2 separate regions of the Homo sapiens genome follow, and region 1 is linked to region 2. Evidence: fine-mapped expression QTL. A gene starts in region 2. The other region holds a variant in brackets. All regions are shown on one strand. Distances are from middle to middle. Region 1 holds the start of S100Z (S100 calcium binding protein Z). Region 2 holds the start of CRHBP (corticotropin releasing hormone binding protein).

The links.
Region 1: its variant is fine-mapped to the expression of CRHBP in whole blood (TOPMed, PIP 0.97).

What each region holds. Positions count from the first base shown.
Region 1 is chr5:76,848,612-76,851,518 of GRCh38, forward strand. S100Z (S100 calcium binding protein Z) reads left to right here and starts at 1,403. Exons shown (of 5, transcript NM_130772.4): 1 at 1,403-1,544. The variant G/A (reference allele first, on the strand shown) is at 1,275.
Region 2 is chr5:76,951,571-76,954,477 of GRCh38, forward strand. It overlaps CRHBP (corticotropin releasing hormone binding protein), which reads left to right and starts at 1,475. Exons shown (of 7, transcript NM_001882.4): 1 at 1,475-1,645; 2 at 2,031-2,124; 3 at 2,459-2,616. The coding sequence starts at 1,565. It also overlaps a transcript of S100Z not described here. RefSeq lists an enhancer at 2,201-2,887.

The sequences.
Region 1 (2,907 bases), 100 kb before region 2:
TACCCTGCAGTCCTAGCTATTTGGGAGGCTGAAGTGGGAGGATCACTTGAGCCTGGGAGGTTGAGGTTGCAGAGAGCTGTGATTGTGTCTCTGTACTCTACCCTAGGCAATGGAGCAAGACTCTGTCTCCAAAAAAAAAAAAAAAAAATTTATCTTTGAATTCTTTCTTTCAATATATTGTTATCTGTATTTCTGTACTGAGTGCTGTGCTTCTTGACCTGTCTCTGCCCTTTTCTGTGTATTTATTTATTTAATTGACAAGTAAAAATTGTATATATTATGGTATACAAATACAGCTTGATGTTTTAATTTATGTATACATTGTGGAATTATTAAGTCAAGCTATTTGACTTAATTGCCCCATATACTTGTCATTTTTTGGGGGTGATAAAGACACTTAACATCTACTGTCTTAGCAATTTTCGATACACGATATATTGTTATTAACTATAGATAGCATGCTGTACAATGGGAGCTCTTAAACTTATTCCTCCTGGGCCAGGCGCAGTGTCTCACGCCTATAATCCCAGCACATTGGGAGGCCAAGGTGGGCGGATCACTTGAGGTCAGGAATTCAAGACCAGCCTCACCAACATGGTGAAACCCCATCTCTACTGAAAATACAAAAATTAGCCAGGCTTAGTGGTGGGCGCTTGTAATCTCAGCTACTTGGGAGGCTGAGGCAGAAGCTTGAACCAGGGAGGTGGAGGTTGCAGTGAGCTGAGATGATGCCACTGCACTCCAGCCTGGGTGACAGAGCAAGACTCTGTCTCAAAAAAAAAAAAGAAAAAAAGAAATGCTGTGAGGAATTATTAGCCATGAAGCTTCAGCAGGCAGGTTAGGTAGCTTTTCCAGTCACATACTGGTGAAGTAAGGATTTGAACCCCAAGACTCTGGTGCCAGAGTAATTGCTCTTCACCATGAGGAGGCACCAGTGGGGGAGTGTTGGATCACAAGCAGTTTCTTTTTCTTTTTTTTTTGTTTTTTTGAGACGGAATCTGGCTCTGTCACCTAGTCTGGAGGGCAGCGGCGAGCTCAGCTCACTACAACCTCTGCCTCTCAGGTTCAAGCGTTCTCCTGCTTCAGCCTCACGAGTAGCTGGAATTACAGGCGCCCGCCACCATGCCTGGCTAATTTTTATATTTTTAGTAGAGATGGGGTTTCGCCACGTTGACCAGGCTGGTCTCAAACTCCTGACCGCAAGTGATCCACCCACCTCAGCCTCTCAAAGTGCTGGGATTAGAGGCATGAGCCACTGCACCCAGCGCAATTTC[G/A]TTAGAGACTTGGTGCCTTCCCATTTCTTTTACTCAGCAATATACCAGCTTTAGGTCCTAAATTAAACCTCTTCCTGCTTTCCCACCTGATGAAGAAACGTGCCTGCAGTGTGGTGAGTCTGGACCACGCAGACTCAGAACAGCACTACTCACAGCAGGGCCTCTTGCTCGCTCTAGCTGCTGGGAGGAAAACGGCTTGCTAATCTCCACGCCCAGAAATTCAGACAAGAGCATTCTCCTTATCTCATCTGCACAGGAAGCAGGTCTAAGGTAAAAGATTATTTTTGTGGAAGATTCTTGCTTTTCAGTCTAGTGGTTGAAGTGTGAGCCTGGCAGGCGTTGGATTAGAGAGGGCAACAAGAGTGGAGGTTGTGAGGTGGGGGGTTGCCTTGGGGCTTCCACTCTAAAATGTGGCCTTACCTTGGCCACAAAGGGGTCGGGGGGGTGGGGGAGAGAGAGAGAGAGAGAGAGAGGGAGAGAGCAGCCTGATCATAGCTCGGAGCGTAGAGGTTCTGGTAAGTTCCTTGCCCTAAAGAACACTTAGTTCATTCTGGCTCCTTTCCTGGTGACCATCCTGGCTTCCTGCTTGGCCTTCACCTCACCTTGAGAAATTCAAGTTTCATGTTCTTGTCCAGGCCAAAGACCCAGAAGAACCTTCAAGGTGAGGCTTGGCCCCTTAGATCCACGCCGTGATTTCGCTTCTTTTTCCTGAAGCCTGCACAGATGCCAGTGTAAGCCCACTCCCAGGAAGTCACAGCAGTGGTCTATGCTCCTCCTCTTCACACTGGCCAGTGCTGGGCATGCCTGGACAATCAGCCCTGGAATGGCTGCTCTCAGCCTACAGAAGAAGAGAGGGAAGAGGGATGGAGGGGCTGGGGAGAAGTTGGTGAGAGGACACAAAATTTGGGTTAGACAGAGAAATAAAGTTTTTTTTGTTTTTTGTTTTTTTCTGAGATGGAGTTTCACTCTGTCACCCAGGCTGGAGTGCAGTGGTGTGATCTCAGCTCACTGCAACCTCCACCTCCCACTTGGCTTCCCAAAGTGCTGCGATTACAGGCATGAGCCACCGCTCCCCAGCCTCCTCATGGGATTTTTGAGGATGACATAAAGGAATACATTTAAACTGCCTAGAAGGGTGCTTGGCCCAGAGTATGTGCTAATTAACGTTGGCTACTATTATTTTCCTTCAACCCAGTGCCGGTGCAGGTCTAGAGGAAAGCATGAGGTGATACAGGGGCACCCAGAGGCGGAGTGCTCCCAGGAGCTGAGGGGCATCGGAGGCTTCCCTGGAGGACTGGCACCTGAGCAGAGGAATGGGCAGCACAGTGGCAGTGCCACGTGTGCGGCACAGATGGTGCAGAGGGGATGGGTGGGCACACTGCGGGGAGTTTAGATTTAGCCAGGGGATGGCAGGGCCTGTCCAGGAGGTTAAGTGAGGAGCTCAGGTGTGCCTCCCAGCAGGCAGGGGAGGCTAATTTTGAAGAAGAGCAAAGTAGGTGCAGGAGGTGAGTTGGGATCTCATGCAGTAATTCAGGCCAGAAGTGACAAGGGCCTGAACTATGGCGCTAGGGTTGAGGAGGAAGGAACAGAGAGTGAGGAGATACAACCTGGCAACTGATTGCATGAGAGAGAG
Region 2 (2,907 bases):
AGGCACAAAAAGGGTGGGAGATAGAGCTGAAGATGGCCTGGCATGTTTGAGGCCAGCAAGTTGGGGTTAAGTTGTTTGTTTTTCTCCTCTTTTATTCCTCCCAGGTTTCTTTATAACCTTTTCAAAATTCAGGCATCTAAACAGCCCTTGGGATGAGAAGGACATGGTGGCCAGTGTCCATGAGCTTTAGGTACTCTTTTCCCTCTCACTGTCTGTGGTCTGAGGACTGCTTACAAAGTTGGACTGTGGCACGAAGGCCTCCTGATTAAACCAACAAAGAGGCCGCCTCTCCAGAGCTCAGAATTGTCCTGACATGAAAATAATCAAGTTCTGACACTGCCAGGATAATTACTGTTTAATTTCGAGTATTTTAAAACTGAAAATATAGCCATTCCTTCCTTTATAACTCTGTATTATGGTCTATTTGTAATAATTGTAATAACAATGCTTGGTGCAGAGACTGGAAAGGGGTAGGAAAGCCAATAGTGGAGCATCCTCATGTTTCCCACAGTTTTGGACACAAAGAAGAAATTCTCTTCTCTCCTGATAAGCAGAGATAAGCTTATACTTATTTCCGGATCCCTAAGTCATCTTTTTAGCCCTGCAAATTTGCTGGTGAGCAGTTACAATAAAGCTTCCTGGCAGTTCCTTCTACCAGAGTGTTAAAGTAATCCAGGTATTTGAAGGCACGAAATGGAATGACTTAATCTCATCTCTCAGTGGTTCAGATGGATGCGAAGGTCATGGCTACAGCTACCTGGTCTAGGAGTGTGTACATCATGTAAACATCCAGGTCAAGTGACAGAGCTCAGCTAAAATCCAGAAGTCCCCTGACACCAGAGTTAGTTTTCCATGAAAGAAATGCCTATAAGAAACTGGACCAGGATAAAGCAAAGAGTAAGGGGCAGGAAGAAAGCTTATAATTGCATTACTGCAATCTTCTGCAAAATCAGACTTCTGCTTCTGTTCCACCTCTTTAAAGCTGAAAATGCCTCAAGTTTCTTACTGAGAGACATGAGAAATTCCATGAATACTAAATTCTTTGACAATTTCTAGCATGGTTTCATCCAAGGTTATGTGATGAGGCTGCATAATATAGGCTCTATATGTTTGGGTATTTTATGCGTGTATGTAACTTTGTCACTTTGATTTGCAAAATGGAAAATTCCCTGAATGCCCACAGAAAAGTATAATGTAGCATTTAGCAGGTCAACAAAATGCACTCCCTTATTCTTTGTCTCCGCCTCATTCTCCAACACTTTAGTGCACTAAGTTGTAGTGACTGAAATCATTCTTGGTGAATAATGCTGGGCCACGCTGAAAATTTGTGGCTGAGAGCTGGACCCTCGTCATCGCCACGTACTCTGTCAATGAGACAGGGTAACCCATGGTTACTGAGCTCCGATCAGTTAAGGGGCAGAGAGCCTCCGCTCCCCACTGCTCTATAAAAGAGACCCAGCAAAGGGACCCTACCAGCTTCTAGCTCTCAGTCTGCGCGAGGGTGTAGGAAGGAAAGCCCAGGACCTCCGGAGCAGAGCACAGCAGCTGCAGAGGCAAGGCCAGCATGTCGCCCAACTTCAAACTTCAGTGTCACTTCATTCTCATCTTCCTGACGGCTCTAAGAGGGGAAAGCCGGTACCTAGAGGTGAGCCACCCCTGGACTGACCCATCTCACCTTCCTTGCGTGTTAGCCCTAGGCGGCAGGCAGGCTGCCTCTGCTCGCAGCCTTTTGGGGTTCGCTGTTTCTTCCCTCTCTGCTGGATGCTGTCTTGCCCCTGGTTTCCCCTATCCTGTTCTCCCTCCTTGCCTCTGAGCATCCCAGACTGCCTGCCTGCCTTCCTCTGGCCGCTGGGGATACCCTGGCCTGATGGAGAGGGTCTAAGACCTTCCCGTCTTCTCCGGACACGGGAAAACATTACCCCTCTCTCTTTATTCGCTATGCTGAGTGGCAGGGAGGGTGCCCCGCTCCTGGTCCCCTTTTTTATCCCCAGCCCTTGAACTTTTCCGGACTGACCTATGTTTCTTGCCAGCTGAGGGAAGCGGCGGACTACGATCCTTTCCTGCTCTTCAGCGCCAACCTGAAGCGGGAGCTGGCTGGGGAGCAGCCGTACCGCCGCGCTCTGCGTGAGTCGAGGCTGCCCGGCTCGCGGGCGCCCGGGACGCGGGGAAGGTGGGACTCTGTGCGGGGGGCAGAGGGCTCGCGGACATCTCGGGGAAGGGGCTGGCCGGAACCGCCAGGGGCGCGGTCCCCTTAGCTAAGGATCGGTCCGCGGAGGCGCGCCAGGAGCGGGAGAGGGTGGCGCGCCCGGGGCGCAGGAACCCAGCGCAGCCTAGGCTGGAAGTCGGGGCGCTGGGCACTACAGAGCCCGGGAATGGGGCGCGCGGAGAGCGGCCGCCCGAGGACGGCGCTGCGGCGGCTGCAGCCCGGGACTTATTGCCCCATGCCCTCCTCCCCCAGGGTGCCTGGACATGCTGAGCCTCCAGGGCCAGTTCACCTTCACCGCCGACCGGCCGCAGCTGCACTGCGCAGCCTTCTTCATCAGCGAGCCCGAGGAGTTCATTACCATCCACTACGACCAGGTCTCCATCGACTGTCAGGGCGGCGACTTCCTGAAGGTGAGGCGCCCACGGCCAGCCAACCTAGCCGGAGGGCGGCACGGGAGGGTTGGAAAGGGCTGGGGCGCTGCACCCAGCGTGGGGCTGCTGAGCGTAGGTAGCCAGTGGCACTTCTTAGACACTTCGCTGGTGCCCGAGTCGGAGAGGCGCGTTCGAGGACCCCCACACGGCGAGAATCTCGCCCTTACCCGAAGACCTCGACCCACACACATCCAGTGGGGCTGGGGCCGGTGCCTCTGGACGCTGCCATGGTTTAAATTCCCTTCTGGGCGCTTTCGAGGCCCTAGGAAC